2 separate regions of the Homo sapiens genome follow, and region 2 is linked to region 1. The links come from fine-mapping of genetic effects on gene expression. Tissue or cell type: gastroesophageal junction. Region 1 holds a variant in brackets; the other region holds the start of a gene. All regions are shown on one strand. Distances are from middle to middle.

Evidence for each region. PIP is the estimated chance that this variant, and not a neighbour inherited with it, causes the effect.
Region 2: it holds the start of TSHZ3, and the variant in region 1 is fine-mapped to the expression of TSHZ3 in gastroesophageal junction (GTEx, PIP 0.95).

Annotation. Positions count from the first base shown.
Region 1 is chr19:31,318,909-31,333,964 of GRCh38, reverse strand. All of the region lies in intron 1 of TSHZ3 (teashirt zinc finger homeobox 3), which reads left to right. It overlaps TSHZ3-AS1 (TSHZ3 antisense RNA 1), which reads right to left and starts at 12,134. Exons shown (of 3, transcript XR_002958388.2): 1 at 1-12,134. RefSeq lists an enhancer at 14,594-15,056. The variant C/G (reference allele first, on the strand shown) is at 8,900.
Region 2 is chr19:31,341,347-31,356,402 of GRCh38, reverse strand. TSHZ3 (teashirt zinc finger homeobox 3) reads left to right here and starts at 6,967. Exons shown (of 2, transcript NM_020856.4): 1 at 6,967-7,223. The coding sequence starts at 7,184. TSHZ3-AS1 (TSHZ3 antisense RNA 1) reads right to left here. Exons shown (of 3, transcript XR_002958388.2): 1 at 7,486-15,056. RefSeq lists enhancers at 1,173-1,816, 2,759-3,258, 3,259-3,760.

The sequences.
Region 1 (15,056 bases):
TGGAAACACACGTACACGCTCCTTGTGAAAGAAGTGGAGTATTTAACATTTCTGCAAGGAAAACATCTTTCATTACTTGACGTGTTCTGTGGTAATGATTTTTCAGTTCAACAAACAAGTACTTATTAGCGTGCGTGCGGGAACCTGGCTGAGGTGAATGGCAGGACCATTTTTAACGGGAACGCGCTGGCCAAGTTTCATGGGGGCCTGGCTGGTCCAGGTGGTCCCAGGATGATGGCTCACTTGGCCTGGAGAGGCAGCTCTGGGACAAGCATCCCACTGTAAAGTCCCCCGGGCCCCATCACTGGGGCCCAAGAGCTCAGGTTGGAGTGACATCAGCATGTTTGTTTTTTTTGTTGCAAGCAGAACCTTCCATGGGGCTTCTTTGGTGGTTTATAAAGTGGATCTGCCTGGAGAGATAACACACTCTGCATGCCACGGGGTTGGCTGAGGATTTGCTGGTTCAAGGGACTGTTTGGGTTCAAGATGATATGCGGGTGAAAAGGGCCGATCCAGGTCCCCTTGCTGAGATGGGTCTGGTTTTTGTAAATTGACTTGTTACAGGAGGGAGAGTGTAGGCACAAGAGCTGAGTGGGAGCGTTTCTGCAGGGGGAATGGAGCTGATTTTCACCCAGAGAGGGGCTCGCATGTCCTTGGTCATAACCTCCTGAGTTGGAGTAGTGTTAGGGAGGGCAGCTGCATTGCTCTTCGCCCTCCCTTGGTGGGAGTGGGAGGGAACAAATGCCCTGTTCATGTAGATCTCTCTGAGGCCCCAACTCCCAGACACTTTGAGTGTGGCCTTCACCCCTGGATTTATTTATTTATTTATTTATTTATTTATTTATTTATTTATTTATTGTGAGACAGGATCTCCCTTGTCACCCAGGCTGGAGTGCAGTGGCATGATCATGGCTCACTGCAGCCTCGACCTCCTTGGGCTCAGACAGTCCTCCCACCTCAGCCTCCTGAGTAGCTGGGACCACAGGCACACACCATCATGCCTGAGTAATTTTTCTATTTTTTGTAGGATGGGGTTTTGCCATGTTGCCTAGGCTGGTCTCGAACTCCTGGGCTCAAGCAGTCTACCCTCCTCGGTCTCCAAAAGTGCTGGGATTACAGGTGTGAGCCATGTGCCTGGCCTACCCCTGTTTTGTTTTGTTTTGTTTTTGTTTTTTGCCTTTATTCCTATGAGATAGTAAGTGCACTAGCCACTGTAATTGCAGGCCTGACCCAATATGGCTTTTTCTCTGCTTTGCATTGCATTCATATCACGGTGTTCATAAAATTAGAAATAGCGAGTTGTGCAGCTTTTTTGAAGAACCCCAGTAATCACAGTCCCCTAAACTGGAGTCCCCACCAAACTGAGACTAAGTAGGGATGGGTGATGGCCCTGTGCAAACTTCATGGCACATCTCCGTTCCCCAATACAGCTGATAATTTTAGTGGATTTGTGCCCCAATCACATCTGATGAGGGGTCGTCGGTCATCGTGGCTCCAAAAAATGTGATCTCAGTTTCTATCCCATGACATTATATTCAGTAAGTGAAAATGGCCTTGAGCTTTCAGAGCCCCACCAGCTCCGTGGTTCCCTTCTGCCATGGCAGTGTGGGGAATGCAGCAGTTAACACTGTTTATACATTCCAGGGGTATTAAGCAGTTAGGTTACTGGAATCGTGGCAGAGCGAGTGGGAGCCGCATTCTGGGTTGTGTCTCTGTAATCAATTACTAAACATATCATGAAATTCCAGATGTAATAATAAAGTTTATGATGATTATATTGTCAGGAGGCCGGGAACACACCACCTCATTGACAGCTGAAGGAAGCAAGAGAATCAGCCTAGGTTTTGCCTGTAATAGGAAAAAGGGTCTTCTTTTGCTCCCATCAGTGATTCTGCATACTTTTTGTGAATGGAAACATGCATTTTTTGGAGACTCAGTTAGAGGGGGAAAAGGGAGAGGTTGAGAAGGGAACACCCTTGGTTTTATGGGGGACATCTTCTTCACGTACCTCCTCTCCCTTCCTCCTCCTTGCCCCTGCCCAGAAGAAAGTGCCCGGGGGAGGTGACATCTTCTGCAGTCAGGGAGGCAGGCTTGGCTGGGGCCCAGCCGCTCTGCCCTTAGAAGCAGCCACCCCTCCTTACGAAGGTGCAGCGTGCTCTGGTGTGGAAACATAAAATGGACGTTCTGTGAAAATCAATTGACTGTCCCGGCTGGACCAGACAGCTCTGACACCACAGTAGGTGGCAGGTGGTGAACATAAGGTACCCAGAAACCTTGGCCGCAGTGACACAGTGAATGCAGCCGCTGGCCTCCTTCCTTGCAACACTATTTGTAGTTTCTTCTCTCTGTGCGTCCATGGCATTTCCAGAAAATGCATCTTGAGTTGACTTCCCTTCGTTATGACACAGCACTGCAAGCAGGGTCGAGCTGCAGTTGGGAAGTTTCAGGGCACATTTCGGCCACATCTGCTGGTACCAGTAGGACCGTGATTGTTTTGGTGGTTGTATGAGTGCAGATTAATTAAACAACAGTAACAAAACAGAACAAAACAAAAAAACAGCAATTCGCAGCAGATCTGAAATATCAGTGACAAAGACAAAAAAAATGATAAATAAGCTATTCCAGGCTATGAAAGAAAATTAATGCCCCTTTAACTCATCACTGCGCCAAAAGTAGATAATAAAGTGCTTACTATGAGAGCGGTTTTACAGACATGTTTCCTGAGGCTCTGGTACAGGTGAGCTCAGGAAGGCCTGGTGTCGCTCTGTCCACATTCCCCGCGTGCCCTCTGAATCTCTGATGCTTTGGTTCAGCCCGGGGGTCTCTCTTAGGCCAGGGTTACATGCGCCGTTTCCCTCCTTCAGTCCTTAGAGGGAAGGAGGGGGTATCCCTTTCGGTGAGTCATAACTCTGCCGTTGGGTTGGGCAGCTCTCATGTAGAAGGGAGATTTTAGGAAGCCCGTCTTTGCTAGAATTTGCCTGGCAGGCCCTGCGTTTCCCATTGTCCTTCTGCCACCATGGTGACTGGGGACATGCCCGTGCCTGTGGGGGACAAGCATGCATGTCAGTTTTTGGGCATGTCAATGCTGATTCCTGTGCCCTGGGGTACGGCCCACCTTCTCTCGGTAGAGCTGTGACCCTGCCAACAGGAAGTGCTGGGAAAACAAGCTCCTGACACCTCCGTCTGGGGTCTGGGGTCGCCTTCTCAGCGTGGGCTGCTTCATGACCCATAGGTGTTCTGGACTTTCCTCCCCCCGCCCAAGGATTAAACAGCACTTGGCTCCTTGTTAAAAGCACATTGATGTTTTGAGCCCAGAGGGAGGTGTGGATCACACAGCAGGTCAACAGCCTCCATTTTGCACCCCGCCATTCCCTGTGGCTGGTTAAGGTGGGAGTGGGTAGGGAGGAGAAAACAGAACTAGAGAGTGACATTGGGGCGATGCTGACCGAGGGTGTGACCCAGGCCAGGCCAGGCTGCTGTGGCCACTGACCTGCTCCTCCCTGCACTTCACATGGGAGCTCGGGCATTGGGAGCCGTCAGGCCAGTCCTCAAGGTACGGCCAAGCAGCCCGGAGGCCACCTCCCGAGGCCTGTGCTAGCAGCTCCTGGTCCATGCCTGCCGGTCAGCTCACTGCTCCACCCCTGCTAGGCGTTAGATGTTTCCAGAAGGCCTGAGGGCCAGGCAGGTGAGGGGCTTCAAGTTCACTCAGGGCAGCTGTTGAGAGTTTAGCGAGTTTTATTTTTGCCCCCAAATTTAAAAGTATCACGGAAGGCAGAGCTATTACAGAGAGAAACCAACCTTTTGGTTATCACACAGCAGCTTTTATGAATTAAAAAAAAAAAAAGGATCTTGACCCTCTTTGAAAGGAAATAAAGTAGGAACCCAGTGTTAAGGAAAACAAAAAAGCTGATATTACAGTTTTTATGATTACTCATATCCTAGGCTGGAGCTTGAGGAAACCAGTTATAATGGAATTTCATTTTTTTCTCTTCCTAGTTGTGTGTCTGCGCTCTTTTTTCCATTAGAATGAGGAGTGGTTCATACTTGGTGTGGAAAAAAAACACACAACAATTTTGGCATGTGATCCTTGCTCTTAGTTGACCCAACGCTGATGGGACTGAAGATAGAATTATGCGGCCTTGTAATTAATTATCGAGCTATAAGGGGAACTGTGGAGTGAAGAGAGAAAGGGATGGAGTTACACAGGGCGGTGTTCCTGCCTCTCTCTCCACAAACACCCCCACTCCCAAGTGCTGTACCCAGGTTTAGCTTTGACACCATAAATAATGCATCTTCCGATATTCAGAAGTGAAAAATCTAAAGCCATCTAGTGGTTCATTTTTATTGGTAGCCACTGTATTAGCACCATTTAAAAACACTATTTTATTGCTGTGAGTCTGCAAGTTGCCAGTAGCAGTTCACCAATTTCACCGGTGTGAGGTGAGGGGTAAGATGATGACCAAAAGCAGAGATGCCTCCACTCTGCCTAAATTAAATGTTTGTGCAAGTAAACTTGAGCGTGCCCATTGCCAGGGCTGACCTTATACCACTAAGTTCTTGCAGTGGCCTGGATGATTGTAATGGAGGTAACGTGATATAAATGTAAACTTTAGCCCTGCTTACACAGAATGCACAAGGCAGCGTGACACCTTCATTTCAGTAGTAAGAAATTACCATTGTCTCTTATTTCTTGCTCGGAGCTTGGGTGACCAAGCCAAGAAGTAATTACACAATTAGGGTTGACAAAGCAGTTCCTGTAACATTTCTTTCTCTTAAGTTTGGGTAGCTTATTTCAACTTCACATTTTCCATATCTTTGTCATTAATAACAAATATCCGTTTTCAGTGCAATACATGTGCCGCATGAAGATTGGGAGCCTAGTGTAATTTAATGATGAAATGTGAGCATTTCATTTTCTGTAAATGTGGCTCTTTGAAGTTTAAGGTAGACATCCAGGAGCTCACACGGCCCCTGTACAGGAAGTTGACTACCAACTCTTCCGCAAGTGAGATTGGTGAACAGTGATTGGGAGCCACTCCCGCTTAGGTGACAAAGATGTTTGAAAGGATATGCAGATATGTGACATGGCTTATCTGGAAGGCTGCCTCTTCAAAGTCATCTCCCATTACTATGGCTCCAGATAATTCTTTAATCTTAAATTGTGTTATCTGCAGTATGTATACGGTATTGTAATTAATTGTCACCAACTTAAAATATAATCTGTTTGGAGTTTATATACCATCTAGGCCTGACCCTTACCTAAAGAAGAAAACACCTCACAGTTTCTCTCTTCTTATTTGTTATTGGATATGAAAGGAGAGAGACACTCTCTACTAAAGAAAAATAGACCTGTTAAGATTTAACCCGCCATTCCTTGAATAAGATGTTCTCAGAACTTCTGTTTTGGTACCAGCTAATGCTGCAAACAAGCTTTGAAACATGGATGGCTCAGCTGGGAGGTGAATGGCCTGCAGGAAGGTTGGGCTCCATCAGCAGGGGCCAGTCCACTGAAGCAAGTCAGTCCTGCTGCCATTTGTCAGCCTGGGCTGGCCTTCCAGAGCCCATCCCTGGTGTGGGAGAGGTGCCAACGTGGCCCGCAGTCCCCGCTGTTTTATAGCTGATGCTATATGCACACACCCAAGGCTTTTCAAGGCTCACACTCAGAGAAGTGCCCACTGGTCTTCCCCTCAGGTGGACAGAGTGAGTGAGTTCCCTGCTCCATGAGCCTAGCACTTCGCTTTTCAGCAAAGGTGCCTTGGTTTTGGGTGGATCTTGTATAAATGAATTCTAGCTGGGGGCCTGGGCAAAAGTTATATTTCTTCTGACAGAGTTTGTAGCAACGTTTTTCTTAATTATTCTTGATGTTTTGCCCATTATACCATTAGCTTCTTCAGAGGACAGAGATAAATAGCTGGTATCTGCAAGAACAAAGTGTGAACTGAATGCATTTAATTATTGATATCTCAGTAACTAAAGGCTCTAGAATGATGTTGTCAAATGCCTTAGTGATCTGACAGCCGATGTATTGGTTTGCAGATGCAACTAGAGACAATGTCCATGTAAACTCTAGAGAAAGAGAACACTAAACAAATAAGAGAATATCGTAGTTCATTTTCTCATTTCTTTATTTTTTTTCCCAGTGCAATTCGTTTCATTTTGTGTATTGGATTTTGAGGTTTAGGGGCTGTGCAGGGTGTTTTATTTCAATATGTGGTAAGATACAAATTGCCTTCATACTATCATATTATTGCCTTTAAGTATACTGCCTGGCTCAGTTACATATACACTGTATATTTATATGCGTGTATACGTGTATTGTGTGTACATATATGTATTCTTACATATGTATGTATATGTATGGTACATATGTGTATCACCTAGTGGAAATCAGTGTTCTCACAGTCTTATTCTTATCAGAGGGATTTTTAAAACTAGCCTTATATGCATGTTTTCAAGAATAAAGCAGAATGCTAACAAAGTGCATTTTCCTTCCCTCTCATTAGATATCAGATCCCTTTCATATGTAGAAAAGTAAGGATTTCAGGTATTTATTCTGACATGTTGACATAACTCCACATATTCAGTTACCTCAATTTTTAAAATCTATTTTACTATCTCTCACATGTAGAATATGATTCCCAGGGTTTAAAACACACAAGGAAATTGATCGCTGTTCAAAAATGTGCAGCGGTAGCCCAGAGGCTCAAAGTCTAGAACCTCGAGCTACAGGTCTCAGGGAAGAAGGGAATTGGTCGAACACATCCAGTAATGCCGTGGAATATTCTTTTTTCCTTTGAAGGTTTGGCTTACAGTACTGTTCTCATGATCATGTTTAATTCTATGTTTTTTCTAAGGGCTTTTTACTCCTCTGCTGGTTTTTTTTTTAATGAAACAGAAAGCTGCTGCCTTTCAGTAGCCTGGCTGAGTGCTGTAAGGAAGGAGAGTCTACATTCTGGACTGCTCACTTCTCTCCAGGATGCCTTCTCTGGCGTTCCTCACATGGAGCTGGACTTCTCCCCTGTATTTGCATGCTTCTCTGGCCTGTGCACACTGGCACACTGGGGCACACATAGGGTTTCCATCAGAGCCGAAGGCTGCGTGAGACTTGGGGAGGATATTTATTTGAAGTTGCACAAATGTTTACAGTAAGGGAGACTGAGACATGGGCACTCGCAGTGCAGAGCTACCCTGAGCAGAGGAACTGCCTTTCCCTCCTGTCTTCCATGTGCTCCGTTCTCCCTAACAGCAACAAACATGCTGTCTTTTGCAGCTGCTTACTTGGAAATTAAATAATGAGCCTCCTGAAGATGGTTGCTTCACACTCCGAGGTTTCAGCCCCATGAGAAAGTGACTTACAGCGATAGATGAGGGGAGGTCAGCACCACCCTCACTGTGCAGGCTCCGAGCATCTGGGTGTGGGTGTGTACGCGTGCTCATGCACACACAGACACACGCAGGCACGTGTGCACATGCACACACACGCGCCAGGCTTCTAAGCATGCAGGGCTGCTCTACAGAAGCTACCTAGAGCCCTGAAAGATTTGACAGTAGCTTTCTCTCATGAAAGTGGATGCATTGTCATTCTTTAAATTAAACAAAATGATGTCCATAATGCAATATTCAAGAGAATCAAAGGGTATGCAGTTAAAAGAGAGTCTTCTTCTAACCCCAGCTCCTCAGTTCTTCTCCCTAGGGGCAAGCACCGATACCAGTTTGTAGTATAGTCTTCTAGATATTTATGTTGGTGCAAAAGTAATTGCAGTTTTGCCATTAAATTAAAAGTATATTTTAAATATTTTAAATGAGAAATCCACACTTTACACTCCATGTTGTACCTGTTTTTGTCTAAGAATATACTTTGGATATCTGCAGTTTACTTTGACATGCATCCAAAAGTTAAGATACATGGAATGATGGGTATATATGTGATAAAGCAAATAAAGCGGAATGTTAAAGTTTTAAACTAGGTGATGGGTGTACAGGCAAAATTCTTTAAACTTTGCTGTGTATATTACATTGTACATAATAAAATGGTGGCAAATCTATGTATCTCAGTCATCATCTTATATCATGTTAGGTTTCAGCTGCTATATCCTACCATATTTTGTTGCACAGAGCTGCCTTATACTTTTTAAGGGCCACGTTTGACTCTAGTGAATGAGTTACCCTCTGCATGGACATTCTGGTTGCTTCTAGTCTTTTCTTTGACAAACAGTACCATAGTGAACATCCTTCTGCACACGCCTTTGTATAGTAATGTCCTTCCACTTACATCCTTGTGGGATGCAGTCCTACAGGCGGAATTGCTAGCTGAAAAGGTATGTTCAGGTTAACAAAATGATAAATATCCAAACTGTTCTCCAAAAAGATCACACACATTTCGCTTCCCACAGCTGCGTGGGAGTGCGCGCGTGATGTCTCTGGCCGTCAGCGCTTAGGTAGGACAGCATCACAGTCAGCAACCCCTTCTCTCGCTCAGCAGGCACCCAGAAGCCTCCATGCATCAACAAAAATGGATACGGATATGAAAGCATATGAATCCCTGTATTCATCTCAGACATCTTTGCCTTTTTTATTTCAGTCTCTGGGTGACAGCAAATAGGTAAATTCATAGGATCACAGCCTTTTAAATTCATCTGCAGGGACAGCCTCATTGGATGGACGGGAAAACTGAGACCAGCCTAAGTTCACATGTCATTCCCTGGCCGGTCCCGACCAGTGAAAGCACTGAGGGTGTAAAGCCTGGCTCTGTGGCCGGACTGCGGAAGCCCTCTCCATAGGCATCCTCATTACCTGAGGTCGCTCAGAGAGCCCAACGGCCAAGACACAGAGGCACTGTGCCCGTATACTACCTATGTTTAGTTCCTACGGAGCACAGCGGAGGTGGCTGGCTACAGCG[C/G]GGAGCTTCTTAGATAATGACCGAGGAATACTGAAAATGTCCTTTTGGGTTTTAGCTGAATAATATTTAAGGATTTTGAAACAGTGACTTAATTTTGTTTTTATGTAATTGATGGCATTGTAGTAAAACGTATTGAGACACCACATCAGCATTTTTCTAACTGTTCCTTGGAGAAAAATATGCTCATATGAAAATGGTTTCTTCACTTTCCACTTACGGAATTGAAAAAATAAAAAAAAAATCACTGTGCTTCCATGGAATCACTATACCCAGAGATTCTCTAATTTTAAAGGGTTTTCCCCTCTGGACTTGGCCTACATAATGCAAGGATACTTTGCCTTTCTAAGTGGGGTTGTCCCTTGTTTTAGAAGCAATGGTAGTGGAGACAGAGGGACTGTTGTGTCAGAGAGTTGGTGCAGAATGCTGGTGGGGCAGATTTCAGGGAAGTTCCATATACCAGAGGCCATAGGCCTCCAAACCTAAAACCCAGTGGTAAGTCACTTCCCATTCAGGCTTCACGCCCCTTGCCCATTCTTTTGGGTTTGGAAGGTGCTTGAAGGAAAGCTGTCTCAATGCTGCAGTGTTGGAAACTTGTGTCTGAATTTGAAGCCTTCATCGTGTTATGTTGATATCAAAGAAATCAGGATATTTACATAAATTATATTAGTTTTCCTAACTTGACACAATTGTTTATATGCGGGAGGTGTAAGTCAACTGGCAGTATTCATCTTGTTCCAAACTTTGCTGCTTAAGATTTCATTCTGAATAGTCAAATTGTAAACGTTAAAAATGAAAATTCAGACTGGATTTATAATGATGGAAAACTCACAAGTCTACTACATTAAAATCATAATGATAATAATAACGCTTTCAAAACAACCTTGGTTGCCTCTCTAGTAGCTTGGTTTCCTGCTCTACTGATGGTAGGCTGGCCCAGTGTGCACAGCCTTGAGGGCTTGGCTGTGCAAGTTGATGTAGGGGCGGAGAGCCAGCATCAAATTGGGTGCTGCGGAGACGTTTTTTCCTCCTGCTTTTGGTTGTGAAGATGCCCCTCGTGGCTTCTGATCCCTGAGCCCTCGGTGATGCCTTGAATGAGGGTAGCCCCACATGCAAAGGGATGCCCTAGGCTGCCTATCCTGCAATGCACTGTGTGTGTGTGTGTGTGTGTGTGTGTGTGTGTGTGTGTGTGTGTGTGTGTGTGTTGGAGGCCAGGTTCAAGTACAAGAGCAGCAGCTGCTGTCTTTACCACCTGGGAGAAAACATCTTTCTGAGGTGTGTGGCAGTGTGGGAAGGTGATTGTGGATGGGGTGACTGTGTGGGAGACTGTGGTGGGTCTACCCTGATGTATCTGCACCTGAAGCCAACTTCTTCCTGGTCTAGATGTGGACATTTCTTAAAGTTTATCCTGGGTCTACAAATGTGAAATCATCTGGGTATTCGTAAACCAGCCGCATCACTGAGAGCAGAGGTAAATCCAGTGCTCCCACTTGGTAGAGTTCTTTGACAATGAAGCTGTGTAGAGGTGAACAACAAAACCCACAACAAAGATAAAGAAAAGAAAAGGAAAAATATGCATTGATAGAATTATGCTTTGTCTTTCTACTTAAATGGCAAAACTCATGTGTCTTCACATCTGGAATAAATGTGATGTTTTACAATTAAACCTATTTACGGGAGCTCACCATTGGATCATAGCATTTGCTTTCTGATTTTTAAAGGCCCCCAAACCATTGAATAGTAAAGAGTGCTGAATGCCATGCAGTGAAGTTCATGATCATAGGCTACTCTGTGGAACTCAGGGATCTACGGTGGCAGCATGCTCCTGGGTGAGTTGGGCAGCTCCTGGCTGGAAGAGGGAGGCCTGGCCTTTGGTGTCTGGCTGTATGGACTTCCACTCCTTTGAGGTTATCTCAGCATTTGATAGCAGAAGGCTGGTTTAAAACATTTTCATGTGAGAGAAATGCTCTTGACCCAATGTTGCGTGAAAAAAGCAGGTTGCCAAATACAATACCAACCCAACACATTCACACACATGCACACATTATAAAGGGAAAATAAAAGGAATAAGCACTCCAAAATGTAAGGGTTTTTATTTTTCTGCTTTCTTCTATATGCCTTTATTTTCCAAATTTTCATCAATAGACATATATTGCTAATCCTTGATGTTGATGTTATCTTGTATCAGAGAGCTTTGTGGCTGGGAAGAAGGTAACTAAATAATTAGTTTCATTTATTCAGTCATTCATTCGTTCTGTCACTCATTCATTCATTCATTCACTCATTCCTTTATTATGTCCATCACTAATTTATTCCTTCACTCATTCATCCATTCAAAAAGTAAGTACTGGCTGGGGATGGTGGCCCATGCCTGTAATCCTAGCACTTTGGGAGGCCGAGGCAGGAGGATCGCTTGAGGCTAGCAGTTCGAGACCAGCCTGGGCAACATAGTGAGACCTGGTCTCTACAAAACATTAAAAGTTAGCTGGGCATGGTAGCATGCATCTGTAGTTTCAGCTACTTGGGAGGCTGAGATGGGAGAATCCCTTGAGCCCAGGAGTTCATGCCTATAGTAAGCTATGATTGCACCACTGCATTGCAGCCTGGATGTCAGAGTGAGACCTAGTCTCTAAAAAAAAATACATACATAAGGCTAGGCACGGGGGCTCACGCCTGTAATCCCAGCACTTTGGGAGGCAAAGGCAGGAGTTTGAGACCAACCCAGCCAACATGGTGAAACCCTGTCTCTACTTAAAATACAAAAATTTGCCAGGTGTGTTGGCCGGGAACCTGTAATCCCAGATACTTGGGAGGCCGAGGCACGAAAATCGTTTGAACCCAGGAGATAGAGATTGCAATAGGCCAAGATTGTGCCACTGCACTCCAGCCTGGGTGACAGAGCAAGACTCCGTCTGAGAAAAACAAAAAAAAACAAACAAACATAAAACCATTATTCTTAGCAAACTAACACAAGAACAGAAAACCAAACACTGCGTGTTCTCACTCATAAGTGGGAGTTGAACAATGAGAACATATGGACACAGGGAGGGGAACATCACACACCGGGGCCTTTTTGGGGGTAGGGGGAATGGAGAAGGATAGCATTAGGAGCAATACCTAATGTAGGTGATGGGTTGATGGGTACAGAAAACCACCATGGTACGTGTATACCTATGTAACAAACATGCACGTTCTGCACATGTACCCCAGAACTTAAAGTATAAAAAAAAAGAAAAAGAAAAAACATCTTCAAGGAAATGCGTTTACTCATACATAATATATATAAAAATATATATTTAATAAATATGTAATCAACGACAATTAAGCACTACCTTCTTTCTCTCCTGGCCTCAACTCTGGCTCACTCCCTCTGTCTCACACACAGTCTGGATGGAAAGTACTGCTGTCCACGTCGGGCCTGCTGTTGTGGGGAAACGAGGATACATCATTAGTGTCAGGTGCTTTTGACCTTGCTGCCTGATTGTGGCCAGGCCCCTTGCGTTAACCTGGCGTGAGTCTGCCGTATGCAGACACCTTGGTGTGTTTCCATGAGGTTTCAGGCAGAGCTGTAGGCTCCATGTTTAGATTTCATAAGAGTAACCAGAAATGCACTTGCTAGGTGGGCAGTTAAAAACAACGGGGAACGGTCTCTGGAGTGCTTCAGTGGTGAGCCATGTGATGACGCCACCGGGCATGTCCTAGGGGCACTGTGAAGTTGGAAGGTAGAGCTCCGATTGGCGGGCCAGTGAGCAGCGTCCAGCCCTGCCTGTCTCCCATGTCAGCCTTAAGTGAGAGCCATGGCCTTCTCAGCACTGTCATTACCCACCTCCACCTTGGAATGATTGATTCATCAGGTTCAGAGGATGAACTTAGACATTAAGGAGCTGGCCAGGCCTTGGTGGAAAGGGATGCTGGAAAAAAAATTATAAAGCACTGTATTTTGCTTGCATGGTATCACTGCCATCCTTCAACAGGACACAGTTTTACATTCTTTATGTATTGCAAAGTGGGAGACAATGTATTGACAGTTGCCAAGCTATGATTTTAAAAATGTGAAGCAGATCTTCTGTGGACGATGGATCTTGAGGCTCTGGGCCGGATGACCTGTCCTGACACCTGCTAACATCTCAGCAGGACCCGTAGGGAAGGGAATTCTGCCTCCTTCTCCTTCAGTCATCTCAGAATTGAACACTGCGCAGGACTCAGTGACATCCTGCAACCAGAGATACAGATATTCTCCCAGGAACACCCAGACCTACAGCTGAAGCCAGGATGTCTTAGTGGAAGGGACCAAGAGCCAAGGAGACTTCAGCCTCCTGGTTACTTCCTCCCTGCAGCCTGGGTGCACTGCAGACTCAGGCGCAGTGGCCATTAGTGCTGTCTCTTGGACCCGCACCTGACCGTGTCTTAACTACAACAACCTTCAAAGGCTTAGGTCCAGGGAGAGGTCAGTTACTCAGATCATCCTGAACATGTCCCTTCTCCCGAGAAGGACACATCATAAAACATGTGGCCCCCAACCCGAGGACAACTGCAGTTATCATCCCTCGCAGGTGGGCCCAGAGCACAGAACACACCTGTCACTCCAGGTGTCACGTCTCAGAAAGACATTTTCTTTAAGGTTAAATAAATAACATTCACACAATGGAATATTTTAGAGCAGTAAAAATGAAGGAACGGCAGCCACGGGCAACAGCAGGGATGGATCTTAGTGATATTATATGGGTAGATAAAGCAAGTCAAAAAGGACTACGTCCAGGATCCGTCTTTTCTACAAAGCACAGAAGCAAACACGAGCCTAGTATTGCTTGGGGGTCACGCATTCATGTCCAGGGTCATATTTACCCACCGCCTGCCTGAGCGGTGGAGAAGCCCCGTGGTCATGTTGTCATTCTCAAGTTGGGTCCTTGTTCACAGGCATTTGTTTGGTTATTATACTTAAGAACCTACATGTATATTTCATCTGTTTCTGTATAGATCAGATGTAACCCGAGAAAATGTTTCAGGGTGTGAGCTCCCTAATACGTCAGGTCATCTGCAGCTCTAAGCTCTGGTTTTTGAGCCAGGCTGTAGCGGTTACGTCCTAGTTTAGGATGATTTGGCAAGAAACTCTCCATCACTTCTATCAACTGCGTGTGTGTTGGAAAGAATTAGGAAGGAAGGGCCGATTGCTACTTTCTCAGGGGGGCTGCATCTTAAGAGTCCATATATGTCATTCAGCTAATGAAGCCTGCCTTCCTGCCCCTAGTAGCAGCCTTTTTTTTTCAAAGCAGCTTAAGTAGAAAGAAAACTTGTTTCAGTGATGTTTGTGCTTTTGAGGGCGACAAAAGGTGTTACACTGTTGTTTTCTTTGTGATTACCGTTGTCATGGTGGTTATTTGTCCCTCTTCAGTGTTCTAGTAGAAACTTTCTGCCTGGTGATGCTTTGAGGGGCTATGAGCTCATGGTGGGTGAGCCCGGGTTTCCTCAGGGCCTGCCTCTCAGTCCTGCAGAGACATCAGTCTCCCTCAGTGGTGGGCTGGGGCTCAGGGGAGAAGCCCAGGTTGTGGCTGGGTTTTGCTGTGCAGACCTGGATATGCTCACCTTAGGGTTTCAGCCATTTTCACTTCTTCAGTGTGGCTTAATTGTTTGTGTCTCACCAAGTGATCTTCATATATATGAGTAGCTTTTTTTAAAAAAAATTACTGATGAAACCTTTACAATGTTTATTGGAAACAATGATTTATGTGCAAAATTCTTAAAGAAGGAAAACCTACTTTTCTCTATTTTGTAATAGAAGGCTTTTGTGTTGACAACGTTCTTCTTTTTATCTGCAGCTGAGCCAGCCGTCTTGGCAGGTGCTATTCATAGCCTGCTTGTTTCTGCAGTGTTGCTAAGTTGTGAGGTGGGGATCCACACTTTCCTTAAGTCCTGTTGTTTTTCTCTATAGGGGAATGAACTAGGTGGCTTTTAACAGGAGACAGTTTTGACGCCTGCTTTTTATATTCAGATGTACTCACCCAGGAAAAGCAACTTCTCAGGTCCCTGGTCTCCGGCTCAGAGGATCCTTGATCAGACAGAGCTGAGATTAATGAGCTGCTTTTAGCCATGGCACCAGGGTGGTAGGATTGTCTGGGCCATGGGAGGAGCCCATGAGGAGGCACCAGAGCTGCTATAAAGC
Region 2 (15,056 bases), 22 kb before region 1:
TGTCCCTCTCTTTTGTACCTGCCCTGCAGAAACTTAGGCTCCGTCTTCCCCGTTTGTAAATTGTAAATTTAGGGACAAACACAAAACCCTAACGTTGAAGACAGAGGAGAAAAGCAATGTAGGAAAGAAGAACTGGGAAACGTGATTATTCCTGGTCTTGCAAATTCCCTGGCCAGTTAATGAGGTCACCAGCCTCAGAAAGCTGGGCTATCTGGTCGGCTAAGACCTGGTGGAATCCTCCTCCTTCAGGATTCCAGCATTCAAAGAGCTGGGGTTCAGAGCCGCATCAGGTTGCCCACGTAATGATTCAGATACCTGCAGTGCGGGGCAGCTGGCGCAACCACACGGGAAGAGTTGGGCACCCCTGAGCTACAACTAGCAAATAGCTGCTCGCTCCCGACCAGGGGTGAGCCCCTAGGTGGCTGCAGCTATCTCTAGTGTAGGGATCCCCCCACCCTTATTTTTAGCTCTGCTTAAATGGTTTCCAAAAATCCATTTCACCCAAAGTGGGGTGGCGGTGGGGGTGGGGGTAAACCACGCCACGCTGCAGCGAGGAATTCGTGAAATTCCCAGCGCAACCCAAGTCGACGCGTGGGATTTGATAAAAGGGCATTTCGCCTGGAGTTAAGCGCTCCAAACTGAGTTTAATGTGCATCTGTCCTCCTTAGACTGAAATACAAAGACGTTTTATTTTCTTTATTTAATCTTCGCTCTCCTAAAAAAAAAGTTTTTGAAAGTTCCGTAGATGATTGAACGAAAGAGAATGAAGGAAGAAAGAGGTATCTGAAGATGTGAGACTCAGAGCACTGGAAAGCTTGGGGAGAGGGGAGGGAGCAGAAAATCGCCATCTCCTGTCTTGGGAAACCCGAGAAAGTGGCCGCTATGACTCACAGGACCAGAAGGTGGGTTTCTAGGCAGACCTGGTTTCCCTCTCCCCACACGCCTGTGATAACCGTACTCCTTCCTTCCTTCCCTCCCTCTTTTAGGTGTATTGTTAAGTGGGTCTTTTTTTTTAAGGTGTTTATAACTGCCTGGAAATCCTAAATCGGAAAAAATGAGGCATTGGAGAGGGGGACCTGCAGGCTGTGGCTTCCTAGACCAGGTCGGCTTCCACCCCAAGTTCTCCCGAATCGAGTGGTGCCCAGGAGTTAAGGGTGGGCCAGACAGGGGCACCAGCTTCCACCCTGCTCTGCCCTGGCCCCGGCCCCGGCCCCGCACACTCAGGCATCAAAGCTGCCCCGGGAAGAAGATCGAAGGCCCCTTTGCCTTTCAGTCAGGCGGTCCTCGTGGAAAACGGCAGCGGCATGCAGTGGACACAGTCTGCAAAGTTGAGCTACATCTCTGTGCCCCAAGCCACAAGAAATTTACGAAGTAGCAAGCTATGCCTGGTTGGAGGAGGGCTGGGAGTGCGTACTCTGGTGTGACAATGCGTGTGTGTGCGCCTGTTTTGGGAGTCGGGGAGGCACTTCACCTCCCCCAAACCAATTCTTGACCTTGGGCCAAGAGAAGCCCCCTACTTCTCTCCAAAGATTGTACTCCCACCCCCAGCTCCCATCCAGGCACACCTGACTCAGCTCTCCTGAGGCCCCACAGAAGTGGTATTAATATACTCTTCTGATTTTCGAAGGTTTATTTCACGTCAAAACTGGAAAAGTTCTTGGGAGAATTTACAGACAAAACATCTGGTTCGTTAAAACAAAGCTACCGGTAAAAGAGAAACAAACTTCGCCGCCGTGTAAATGCACTTTTAGCAAACAATTTACCACCTGGCGAGGGCCAGGGTCCCTATCCTTCCTGCTTGGGCAGGGGCTGAGATTCCGGGGCCCAATTCCTGGTTCAGGTGTGCAGGTGGCAAGCTTCCCTGAACCCAAGGCACCTCCTCGACACTGCCTAGCCCAGAATGTGGTGTGGGGAGGCGTGAGGAAGGCGAAAAACCCATATGCCAGCATTCCAGGTGAGTGCAGGCAGGAGGGCACCCACCTGGTGCCTCTCTCCCCTGGTGCTGCCCAGCCCTGGGCTCCCTAAAAGCCTACACCTTGGGCAAATGCCCTCACACTTTGAAAGGGGGTACAGCCTCCCAGAGGGTACTACTCAGAGTGCCCAGTCCCTCCAGGTGGCCCAAGCCTCCCTCCGAGAACCTCTCCAACATCAAGGCTTAAGCCCTGGGTGCCTGGGACCTGAGCCCACTCTAGCTCCTCATCTTGTAATGGTAGCTTTGAAGACAACTTCTTTCCCTTAAGTCTTTTCCCTCAGTGGCCACCCCAGATAAGGACAAGACTTGGCCTTCTTTGGGTCGAGTTGTCACCTACTGCCCTCAATCGCCACCTTAAACACAACCTCGGCTGCCTCCCGGCGGTGGTTTGGCTACTCCTTTCTGGCACAGACTTCGTGACTTTGTGTGGTGTGTTGCGAGCCAAGTGCCCGTCCCCACAGCACACACCTGTTCCTAGCCTTGCCTGCATGTGACTTTTTTCTTTCTCTCTCTCTTTTAAAAACTTATCCGGGCAGAGCTCCCGGTAGCTAAGGTCATGAATGATCCTGGGGTGGGGCACAGGTAGCTCTGGGGACAGATGTCCCGATTTCCTTGAGTTCAAAAAGTCTGAGGCAGATTTCTAACCCCTGACCTGAAGCAGCTTCATTTGGGAGCTTTTCTACTGATTTTCTACTGATTACATAGCACCACTATGGAGGAGGAGCGGGATTCCACCGGGCCTGAGGTGCAATCGTGGGGGTCAGCACTGCCTTCATGGCCCTGGGGGATGTTTGGGGATCACAAGGTTACCACCCAGCTATTGGGTGAGCCAGCTGGCTGCCATGCGACTGCCAGTTTCTCCAATGGACATTTGCACCTCGGTGTTTCGGTGAGTCGTCCCACCGCCTTTGCTCATTTTTCCTCCTTCTATTTTTAGGGTTTTTTTTTTAATGTTCCCGGAAAGGCGGCACCTCCCAAAGGTGGGGACATCTCACTGGCCTAGGGGCTTACTTTTCAGAGTGACTCAGGCGGGTAGAAGTTACTAGGGCTGGCAGGGCCAGAGCCTGTTGTTTTTCAAAGATAATCTGCAACTCTGAAGAGTGGGGTGAAAAGATTTCTACACAGTGTACATTCTACAGAATTCTAGTTTCTCCGCGGGCGCAGACTTTTCCGCCCTCTAGTCTAGCGTGAAAACAGTTCGACCACTGGATGTGGGCGGCGAAGCCCGCACCCTAGAGCGCGGTGTCTCCCTGCAGGAGGGAGCTCCAGCCCGCGCCGCCGCGGCCGCTTCTGGCCTCCTCGGGAACCGAACCGAGCATACCTCAGTGCTCTCCTAGAAGCGGCTCCTTTTCCCCTTCTTACTCGCGAATGGCGAAATGAATAGCCGCGCGGGATTTTACCCGTTTGTGTAGTGGACTCTGAGGGGGCACCAGGTACCGAGACGGAAATCTTTGCGGTAAGAATAAAGTCAGGTAAAACGCCTGGTACAGCCGCCCTGCAGATGTCCCAAGAGTAGGTCCCCCGTACACTCTTCCCATTAAGTTCTTAGGGGGAGGACAGGGAAGGCCCTTTGGTCTGGCTGGATTGATCAGGGAGGTATGCGCATATGTTTGCCCTCTGGACATTTGGGGAGGGGTTATGGGGGAGTTGAAGGCAAGAGGCAAAATCAGGTAGAACAAACAACTACAGCCAAGAGCGGCACTCTCGGGGAATGGGCACACGGAACTCCGCGCAAACCTCTGGCTTCTCAAACCTACAGCCCTGCCCTTTCTCCCTTTGTAAACAAAATGTGAATTACAGACTTACTGCCATCCAGACACTATTTCTCCCTAAATCTGGCCCTTAGTTCTCACTGGGATCCACGTTTTCCTCCGCTCTCCAGCTCCTCTCCATCAGGCCATGTCACACACAGCAGCCAGGCGGGGCCAAAAAGTTTTAGCGCGAGACCTCCTGGCTAAAACCTGGCCAGCGACCTCGACAACACATCCTAGGCCCAGGTGAAGGGGGTTTAAGCCCTTGCATCCAGGTAGCTTCCGGTTCTGCAGTGTGCTTGGTGCGGATTTGGGAAGTCTCCCTTCCTTCTCTCCTAGCCACACCCAGCCCACACAAGGGCAGAGAAAACCTGGTGGAAAATAATGACTCGGGCGACACTGCCCCTCTTCCTTCAATTCCATCCCTACAATGGTCTGCAAAACTATTCATGTTTGGGGGTCCAGATATTAAGTGGGGGTGGGTACATGTGGCTGAAAGAACACAGATTAGGCCTTCAGGCTGTGCCAAGCCAGGCCGGGGGCCTTTTTGCGTGTCCCGACATGGCAGTATGGTTGCTGCGTGCACTCCGCATAGCCCGTGTTGTGCGTGGCGGGCTGTCGCTGCAATGTGCAGCCCATTGACACTGATGGATGCGCCAATGGTTGGACGGACAGATGTTAGGGCGGATCGCACAGCGCTCGGCGCCTGAGCGGGGGAGGGCCAGGCAGCGACCCAGCGGCGGCGGCCGGCTACGCGGAGACCCGAGTTCAGGCCGCGGCCCGCAGTGGGAGGGGGCCGAAGGAACAGAGGTTTGCAAGAACAGCGAGGGGATGGAAAGGAGGAGAAAAGCGCGACCAGGGAGAACTACACGCTTCCGTGTGCGGCGCCCCGCGCTGTGCACACGCCGCACCGGGCGCGCCTAAGTGGGAGCTTCGAAGGTGAGCTGGGAGCCGGCGGGAGCTGACCCCGTGCGGCGCAACCCGCCTCCAGGCGACAGGAGCTCAGCGCGGCCACCAGAATGGTGAGGCCGCCGGCGGTGTCGGCCAACTCACCGTTTCCTCGCTTGCAAGAAGCGTTTCACGCTCCACGGCCGCGTCTCCCCGGCCTGGAGGAGTAGCGGTTCTGGCCTCTGCGGCCGCGGGCACCCAACGCGCACGGCGCCTCAGCCCCCGAGTCCGCCAGCCCGAGAGCCCCGCCGCAGCCCGCCTCGGACTCCCTGCCCCGCCTGGGGTCCGTACCCCACAACTCCGAGCGCTCCTGCGCGCGGAAAGGCGCTGGAGGCGGCTTTATAGCCGGGGAGGCCAGCGGCGGCGCATCTGCATCCTGGGAGACGTCTGGACCCAGCCCAAGCCCGCAGGCTGGGCGAGCGGAGACTTTTGATCTTACCGTGTGGGTGAGATCACTGTCTCCCGGTCTAAAAGAAAAGAAAGCATGCTGTGAACTTTTGAAACAAACTTGCAAAAACAGTCGTAGAGAAAAAATAAAAAGGACACAGGGCAGAAAAAGAGGGAGAAAGAGACTAAAAAAAGAAAAAGATAAGGGGAGGGGGAAGGAAGGAAGGAGAGAAGGAGGAAGAAGTCTGGGGTTTGCTGCTCCAGGAGCGCTCAGGCAGCCGGTGCTGGAGCGCGGGGCGCCCGCCCTCGCCGGGACTGTCGGCCTCGGGGCCTGCGAGAGCGCCAGAGCCCCAGCCGGCGCGCCCGGGCGCAGGGCCGCCTCGGGGATAGTGGGCCCGGAGGCCGCCCCCGCGCTCCAGCAGCCGCCGCCCGGCAGCGCCCGGAGCCGGCCCCGGCGCGGCCGCCCCATTCCCGGCCTGAGAGCTGGCCCAGGGAGACGCAATCGAGCCCGCAGCGCATCGATGCGCCGCCGCCCGCGCCGCTCGGGCTCCGGCTCCCGCTCAGCCGCCGCCGCCCGGGGGTCGCCCGCATGAGCTCCGGCCCACCCGCGCCCTCACCGCCGCCCGTAAGTGAGCCCGCGTCGCCCCGCCGCCCACGCCGCCCAGCCAGCTCCTTCTTGCCGCGGCCAGTCGGCCGGGCCGGCCCGGAGCCTCAGCGACCCCGATCACCAATCAATAATCAATCCCTCTAGTCCAGCAGCCCCGGCAGGCCGGGCGCGGGACACGGCGCGGCGGCCCCCTAGGCTCTCGGGGGGAGCCCCTGGCGGGGGATGGGCAGGGGAGCCCGGTTTCCTTCTCCCGCCCCCGTCCCGCCCTAGGATCGGCCCGCGCCGTGGATGGGGGGCGCGGCCCGGCTCCCGGGGGCGAGGGGCGGGGTGGAGGGACCCTGATCATCCCAAAGTCAGGAGAGGAAACTTGAAGGAACCCCCTCCCACACCGACCCCCGGGACGGGCCCAGGAAAGTTTGTCCGGGGAAAAAAAATTGGGGGAAGTGGCTACGGCGGGTCCTGGGGGAGGAGCTGGGTGGCGCGGGGTCTGAGGGCTGCCCCCACCCGCCCCGGCCCGCGCCCGCCTCCTCCCTGGAGGGGGCCTGCCCGTGGGCTCTGGCTTCCCCGGGGGACGCCAGCCCCGGCCCGGGGACCACGCTGGGGGCTCCGGAGTCGGCGGGTGGAGAGGAGTGCGAGCCGGGTGGGGCAGCTGGGGGGTGGCTGGGGACGAACGCTGGGTGGGAATAGGGGTGGGGGGTAACGAGCGCCCCGGGACGGGCTCGGCGGGGCTGGCGCCGCGCCCCCGCGTGTGCGCACGGGGCGGAGGCGGAGGGGCGGCACCCCTTTCGCTGGCGGGGCGGGGGTCCCACGCGGGCCTGGGGCCGGGGGCGGGGGCGCGGCGCCCCCGCGGGCGGGCGATTGACACGATCATCTCCTTTTCCTTTAAGCTTGCCTGTTGCCGACGCCGCCGCTCCAGCCGCGCCACGGGCAGAAGACTGGACCGCCGAGCCCCGGGCCGCGGCGGCGGCTGCGCGTCCCCCCGGATGCCGTGACCCCCGGCCTAGGGGCGGGGGCCGGGGCAGTACCGGTCCGGGCCGCTCCCGCGCTCCTCCTCCCACCGCTCTGCCCGCCCTCTCCCCGCCCCCCAGCCCCGAACCCCGCGCACCTCGTCTGGGGACGGGGCGGGGGGGGGCAGGGCCGCCGCTCCTCCCCGCCCCCTCCTCCTCTGGCCTCTGGAGCGATTTGTCAAACTTCCCATTCCGCCGGCAGCGCGGTCCTCCTCCTCCTCCTCCACCTCCTCCTCCTCTGCCTCCTCCTCCCCCCCGTGCTCCTCCCTCCCCGAGCCTCCCTCGCCCGCCCTCCTTCTTCCCTCCGCACGTTCGGGGTTCGCGGCGGAGCGCGGCGCGGGGGGGACGCGGAGAGCCTGGGCGCAGCAGCATCCTGCGGGCGGCCGCTCTCCGGGGGGGAGGCTGAGAGCAGGCCCGCCTCGCCCCCCCGCGGGCCCGCCGCCCCCTCCCTCCCTGTCCTCAGCCCGGCAGCGGCGGCGGCGGCGGCAGTGGCAGTCGCCGGAGAAGCATCATGCCGAGGAGGAAGCAGCAGGCGCCCCGGCGCGCAGCAGGTACGAGCCGCTTCCCCTTCCTTCTGCTCTCCTCCTCCTCTTCCTCCGCTCGCCCCGCGCCTCCAGCGGGCGCGACCCCGCTCCTCGCCCCGCTCTTCTGCCCGCACTGAGTAACTCCGGGCGCCGCTCTCCTGTTTGGGTGCGTGCGCCCGCCTCGGGTACCGGGCGCCCCCCGGACGCCCCGCCGCGCTCTGCCCTCTTCCCTCTCGCACCCATTTGGGGAGCCGCTCGCGGAGCGCGCTGAGCCGCGCCAGGTCCCTACCTCCTCAGCTCTCCGGCTGCAGAGGGAATGGGAAGCAACCCCGGCCTGGCTCTTTCTGTGGGTGGCGGGCGGGGTCACCTGAGTTCCCCGGGACATCTTCCGCGTCCTCCGAGCGGCCGACCGCCGGGGGACTGCCTGGTGTCCGCCGAGCCAGGGAGCGCGAACGAGTGAGCGAGCCGGTCCCCTCGGCCACCTTAGTACTAACACGATTGATTCCTCATTTCTTGGGCCCAAACTGGGCACAGCGGTGGAACCCGGAGCGCACAGGGTCTGGGTATTGTCAGATGACTGTCAAGTCCATGTTAGATGCTGGCGTTTCCTTCTCCCCTGTTTGTGTTTCCTCGCCCCCACCCCCTCCTTGTACTGCTGCTCCCACCCTCATCTCCGCATAGCACTTAGTTCTGGGACGTGTCTGAGTACTTTTTTGTTCCTCCTTTTTTTTTTTTTTTCTTCTTCTTTAACCGGGAGTGTCAACTCCTGTTAAGACTGAGCCGATTTTTTTCTTTTCTTTTCTGGAAAACGCATCATTGAAAACAAAACAAAAACCACACACATAACATTATTTTGCAATAATGTCGGTTGGGGGCATGTTGCCTGGAAGAAGGGTTTCTGGCCCGTTGCCATCCTTGATTTGATGACTGATTGATCGCCCGTCATGCTGCTGCCTTTGATCTATTCATTCCCAATAAACATCAATAAATCACTTGCAATAGTGAGGCCAAGCTCTGTGACGTCAGGAGGGCCCTGTCAGTGCAACTTTGGGATTTGGGGCGGATTGCCGAGAGGACCACATATGGACGTGATGTATTTTGATATGAGTAACACTCAGATGTGCAGAGGTTCAGATGCTCCCTGAAGGGGAGGGTTAAGTGGGGCTTCCTTTCTTTTCTTTTCTCTTCCTTTCTTTTACTTCTCTTTTGATGTTAAGAGGGAAGGGCAGAGAGTAGGGTCAGGGCATTGGCTGGTGCCCATCTTGGAGGAAGGCGTTGTAGCCATGGTGCCCTGAGTGCCCATAATTTCCATCATGCCAGCCGGCACTGCCAGGGGACCTCACACGTTGGCTGCACTCTGCACTCCAGACCCCTTACACGGGGTCACAGAGAAGGAATGATAATTCTCTCTTCTCCCAGAAATGTACTTGCCTGCCAGTGTCTTCAGAAAATCTCAGAAGAAAACAGGGTTGGTTTGGGGCTTAGGATGCAGGTTTTGCTCTCTGTCCTCGGTGTTGCCCAAATTTAGAAAGTTTGAAAATTCCAGGAGTGATTGTAGGGAGCTTGCCGCCTCCCTAGTTAACCTCCTGGAGCTTGCTTCTTGCCCGTCCCACCTTCTACTTTAAATTCCAGGCTCAAGCAATGAGCTTATCTACCCAAAATAAACTCTGAAACTTTGGAGGAATCCTTCACAAAGTTGAGTAGTAGGAATGTCTTGGGCTTCTTCCAGTCTTTGAAATTTTTTTTTTCTTTCCTTTTTGGATACACATTTTAAGGTATGTGTGTGCCTCCATCCAATGAACCATATGTGATTACATCTTTACATTTGGTTCAGAACTCTCTCTCTAGTTCATCTCTTCGGTTGCACCCTGCCAATCTGAGACTCGTATTTGATAGCTTCCTCCAGAAAAATATCAGAGGAGGAGGGAACCTGCTGTTGGCTTTATTTATTTATTTATTTATTTATTTTTAGAGCAACCTGTTCACTAACCTTTTCACACTTTTTTTTTTTTTTTAAAGAAAGCCAGCCAGGAAATCTCAGGTCAGTTAAGAAAAATTCATTATATAAAAAACTTGACTGCAGGACTAATAGGAGATGGAAGAATGGTTTTGCTCTATCAAAATGACCCGTCAAAACGACTTTGTTTCATATTTGATTTAATTGTCTCTCTCCTGACAGGCACATTCATCAATAGCTTAATGGTCAATCAGAAGCTGGCAGCATGAGTGCTTTATTTCTTTCCCATACTCGGGTTTTGGATTTACTTTATCAGAATGCCTCTGCCTAATGGACATGTGGAGGAGGGGGTGGAGGCGGACTGAAGAGCTACTTATTTAAGAAGAGTGGAGAGAAAAAAAAAAAACTCCACATTTAGGCTGGTGATAAGTATGCACAGAGGTTTTTTTTTTGGGGGTGGTTTGTTTGTTTGGATGGACCAGAAACTTCCCATTTTTTTCTCCTCTTTTTTAGTTTTCCCAGCTGCAAGTTATAAGGTTCATGCCAGCTTTTGTGGCATACTGGGAGTGATGACAAATTGATTGCTTTGTACTGATAGAGAGAGAGAGTGGGGAAAAGAAAGATGTCTGCTGATTGGTAACTGGAAATCCAGTCCCCAGCAACCTTGAGAATACTCGAGAATTTTTTTCCCCTCCAAACTGAAAGGTCCGCTCAGCCATAAAAAAAGAAAAGTTGTTTTGCCAGCTTCATTAGTGTTCACCTAATTAGCTGTAAACCTGATGGATTCCTGACAGCTTTAATGATTGGAGATGACAAGCTCGACGCAGTGTCATCCAGCAGAATTAGGTTTGCAGCTAGTTTGATGTAATCAAGTTGATATTACACAGTCCTGGCTGCCTTTAGTTGTGCATTAACTCAATTTTCTGCTGCAGGTGACAAATGGGCTTTGGTACCTGGATAATCATGTCATAGGAATTAGGGCCCTTTTAATGGTCTAGGGTAGAATAACAACCACAAAAGGCCAAGAGCTGGGTAGGGCGAGCAGACGTGGCACACAGGTACACACGGTCTTCATATCTAGGCCAATGTATCATTGCTTTCCCGAAGGCCGAAGCAGGCTCCAAGAATCCCTGAAAATACATATTTCTGTACTTTAGGATTTTTTGATGTTTTGATAGAAACTATGTATGGCTTAGGGTCTTTTCTCAAAGAGAAAGAGAGGTTTCTTTACCTGCCAAAGAGAAACCTGGGCGGGAGTTTGCTTCCTTGAGACCTGTAATTTCCAGGGGGTGTGCATTTGTGCTGGACAGATGTTGCTGCTTTTAGAAGCTCAGAGGAGTGGGGTTAGGGAAGGACAGTGTCCTTCAGGCAAAATGACCATTATCCCCTGCTTAAAGCATGATTTTCTCCTGTTCAGAGTGGTTTTTAAAAAACATTTCTGAAAATGCCAGAAAAATTTTAGTGTAATACTTAATAGCAGATATTTTACTTATATTAATTTTCTGGAGGCAAATGTGAAATCATAAAAGACCATTTCTTATGCTTCCAAAAGAAAAAAAAACCAAACAAAAAACAAAAAGAAACCATCGAACCACAATTTGCCAGCAAGCTATATTCTTTGAAAGGGGGTAATGTTCCGTGGAGTTCTTAGGTGGTAAAAACAAGGCAAGGGTAAATCTTCAAGCATCTTGACTTTTGTGAAAGTGACTTGGACCCCCTAGGGTCTGCTGGTGCCACAGAACACTGTGGATCCCCCTGGAACAGCCAGAGGGGGTTCCATGTTGCCAGTAGACATGGGCATGCCTAAGAGGTGGCCCACCTGGTGGTGTCCAGATGACACCTTCCTAAGTCTGGTCCACACATCGGGCAGCTCCAGGAAGGAGCTTTTCCGTTCTCTCTTGGAAGCACATGGAGCATTCAGAAGGGCATTTCGGCCTTAGCTTTGGGAATTTTTTTCGTCTCATACCTGCCACGTATTTCTCCTTGGACAGGTATTCTACTCTGTAGCAAGGTGGCAGAGCGACTGGTTTTGACCGTTCTATGATTTTTTTCTTCCCCCATTTCCTACGAAATGAGAGCAACAATGCAAATTCTAAAAAGGAAAGCCAAGAAGACGAAGGAGAAAAACAAAGGAGGTGGGAGGCAAGGCTATTCCCTTGGATGTCCACGTGGGGAAGAGAACCTTCCAGAATCAGCTGCGGTGCCCCCATTATCTTGACAGCTGTCAGTTAGGGCTTCAGTGCTCTCCAGGGCCACACTTGATTGTGAGCTGTTGATGTTGTCATTTTGTTCTCAGTTTTGCCTTGAGCGCGCTCATAAACAGGAGCCAGATAGTCAATAACTGATGCCTCAGCAGCGATTCCCTAAATTGCCTCACACGTCTGCCTTTTCCCCTCTTTTTGCTAAAGATTGTTTTGTCAAGTGATTAGAATGAAAGGCGACTGCTCAGGGCTGTGGGAAATACCGTGAAACCCAGGTGAGTTGAGAGAATTAAAACCATTCCTTTACCGCCGCCCTCCACTCCTGGGATTTCTGGAAAGAGAAAGGACCTACCTTCTTGAAGGCAGAGTGCCTGGACCTCTTGTGGTGCTTTCTCTTTTACACGTGTCCTGCCAGAGTCAGGCTGGGGCCAGGGCTGCGGCAGGCAGGCAGGCAGGCCCGCGGGGAGGCAGAGAGGAAAGGATTAGGAAGTGCCCGGTCCTGGTGCACACAGCCATGTTTAATCCAAGAGTGGCAGCAGTTCACAGTTATCCCAAGTGCAGTTTGTAAGGCTTTCCTCCTGCCCCATTTTCATCCCTGCCTGTCACTGGGCAGAGGGTAAAAATAGCTTTGGTCATGTCGTAAAACAATTAATAAAAATGAAATAAAGTAGGGTGTGTGTGTCTACCCTTCTGTGTTAGTGTCCAGCCCAGGTAGGTAGTTGGATCTTTCAAATCAGCTGCTTTATCACACCCCTGTAGCATCACCCTCAAAGCCCATGGAGGGGAAAAGGACAGAAGGGAACAGTGGTATCCAGTATCCCAAACCCTTGCAGGTGTTCACTCTGTGTGTGCGTGTGTGTGTCTGTGTCTGTGTTTTAGTTATGCTCTAAATTGTGGTTTCTCTGTCTGAAGTTACAAATGAAAGGTGAATACAATATATTGTATTTAGTAACAATGATATGGACTGGTACATCCAGACAGATAATGTGCAGTTGTAATTAGACTCAATAGACAGGCAGTCATTTTTAAATTCTTTGACACATGCATAAAATAGTCATATAATAAGATAAGATGACAATTTTATGTTAGGTTGATAAAGTGTCCCGATACATGCATTTAAATGTCTGTAAGCCTTTTTAAAAAAATCCAGACAGATTAATTCCAGTTTCCAGTATTTGCAATTAGTCACTAAATTTTTAAATCCCACTAAACAATGGCTATCAATATTTTTCCCCTGTTTCTGGATTTTCTTTAAAAAAAAAACAAAAAAAAAACCTGAATTGTAAGGACTGGAGACATAGACTTGGTAGCTTTTCTTAATTTTTCACCATTTGTAGAAATTTACGCTTAGAAATGGACTTAAAAATTCAGGTCACTGTTTGTGACCAGAATAACGCTATGCATTTTTGGAAGTAAAAAAAAAAAGACAGTAATAGAACATAATCTTCTTATGACCACTTGCCTGAACAACTGTCATACTCTAGGTTTAGGAATCTTTATTAGAAAGATTACAGAGTGTCCTTGACCAAATATTGAATATTTTATAAGCCCCATTTAAAAAAGAAGACATTTCTAGCACATGCACTTAGTTTGATCAGCATTTAGATTCTTGGGTTTAATTACTTTCAATTCTGTAAATTATTTTAGCATTTCAACAAGAATAGTCCAAGAGATACAGTCCGGGGGGTGGGGGCGAGTAGTTCACTGAAGGTCACGTTACCTGGACATTTTAACCATCTCCTTACCTTATTTTCTCAGATATGCAAAGGTGTGGCTCTTGAAGAATAATTTAAATTTGTTTGGGCTTAATGATAAATTATTAATTCATACTGTCAGGACACATGTTATTAATTATGACTGTGTTTTCTTCATCCAGAACAGCTGTTGGGGAAACAGGGTAAGTTCAGATTGTTGTCGGGAGGGAGGGCACAAGGAACTTACCAACTCCTTGTCATCGCATTCCTGGTCACCTCGCTAAGAGAATAAAGGATTGTAAAGGGTAGAGTGTAGGGGAGAGAGACACTGTTAGTTCTAGATCAAGATGGGCACTGGCAGATGCTAACTTACGTACATTTTTAAAAACGCAAGCCTAACTCTCAATGCACTGTGAATCCAGGTGAGATCCGAAGGCAAACCATCCCTGTTTTAATGTTAGCCAGGTTTTGGATTGGCTGCCCTCTCCCTTCCACCAGTTTCTCTGTGTTTCTTCTTTTTCCTCTGTGGTAGGCCAGAAGGTCATGTTTACAAGTTTATAGCAATGGAAAACACAATATTCAGAAAATATATTTGTTTCCCAAAGTGGAACCCATCCTTAATGGAGAGCAAAGGGCTGTTTGGTAATATACGTGAAATGACTCCAATTCATTTACTTTTGATTTTCCATTCCCATCATTAAATCTAGTCCTATGTATTCAGTTTCCTCTGAGTTCTTTGAGAAATGCATGTTGCATAAAATAGGCAATTTTTAATGAACAATTTAATGTAAATGGGTTTTGAATTTAAATTAATATTAATGAAGCCTTGAGTGAATTTATTTTGCATACGTAAAGACTTGTAAGTCTTTCACCCATGTGCTTTCTCCTTTATGTATTAACATTGGTTGGGTGGATTAACCAGCACCTTTTAAAGATTTACACTTAAAAAATTAAATTGATTTTATATGTCCACTATCACCAACGTACTATTAAGCAAAAAGCATGAGTTCAATTTTAAGAGAATACAGCTTTTTCCCTGTTAAACCCCTCAGTTTCCATTGCTCAGAAAGCTGCCGTTGGTGTGGCATTGCTGCTAGAGAAAATACACCCCAACAATAGTTACCACAATCAAGATGTTTTCTTTCTTTGGCTTACCTCTAATGCATTATGTATCCTGGAATGATACGAAGTTCTGTAATTAATTCTGTTAGATGTAATTGCTATAATCACTTTGATGTTACACATAATAAAGGTAATATGGTAAGTACATAAAAAATGTAAACACCTTATTGTAATACTCCTGCTAAAATGCCTTCTCATCAAGTCTGGTTTATAGACAAGTGTTCCTATTTTTGGTCATAGGTGACAGTTTATTCGAGCTGTGTTCATTGATATTCTAAAGGAGAGGCATTTATTGGAAAAGATGGGCCTTGGTTTGGAGGGATCTCCAAGCTGGTTGCCTAGGAATCTTAATGCCCGTTTTCTTAAAGATGTGGCTAATTATGAAAAGGTGACCATTGTCTTCTGAGTAGACCAGAGAGGTAAACACTTCAGAAGTAGCCGTGGAACCAGGGAAGAATGTGGCCTAGGAGTGAGTGAGGAGCCAGGAGAATGCTAGCAGAGGATTCGGATCAAAGGAGCTGTTCTGTAGGTTTTCTTATGGTGTGGGACTGTGGGAAGTGCTGTGTGTGTGTGTGTGTGTGTGTGTGTGTGTGTGTGTGTGTCAGAGAGAGAGAGAGAGAGAGTGAGTGCATGCTAGCAGGTGAACAGAGAAGGCCACCTTTCTATAACAGTGCAATAAGGGAAATAACATGCAGGATATCTACTTTATTATTTTCCTACACCTTTCATGGGGGTGGGGGCTACAGATGGTGCCTCACTGTTGCATGACATGTCCGGGAGTGGCTGATGTTGCCTGTTGGACTGAAACCTGTGTGGTATTTGAGACACACTCCCACCCCATCAGGCCTCTGTGCACCTACCCTGGATCCAGACCACCACAGGACAT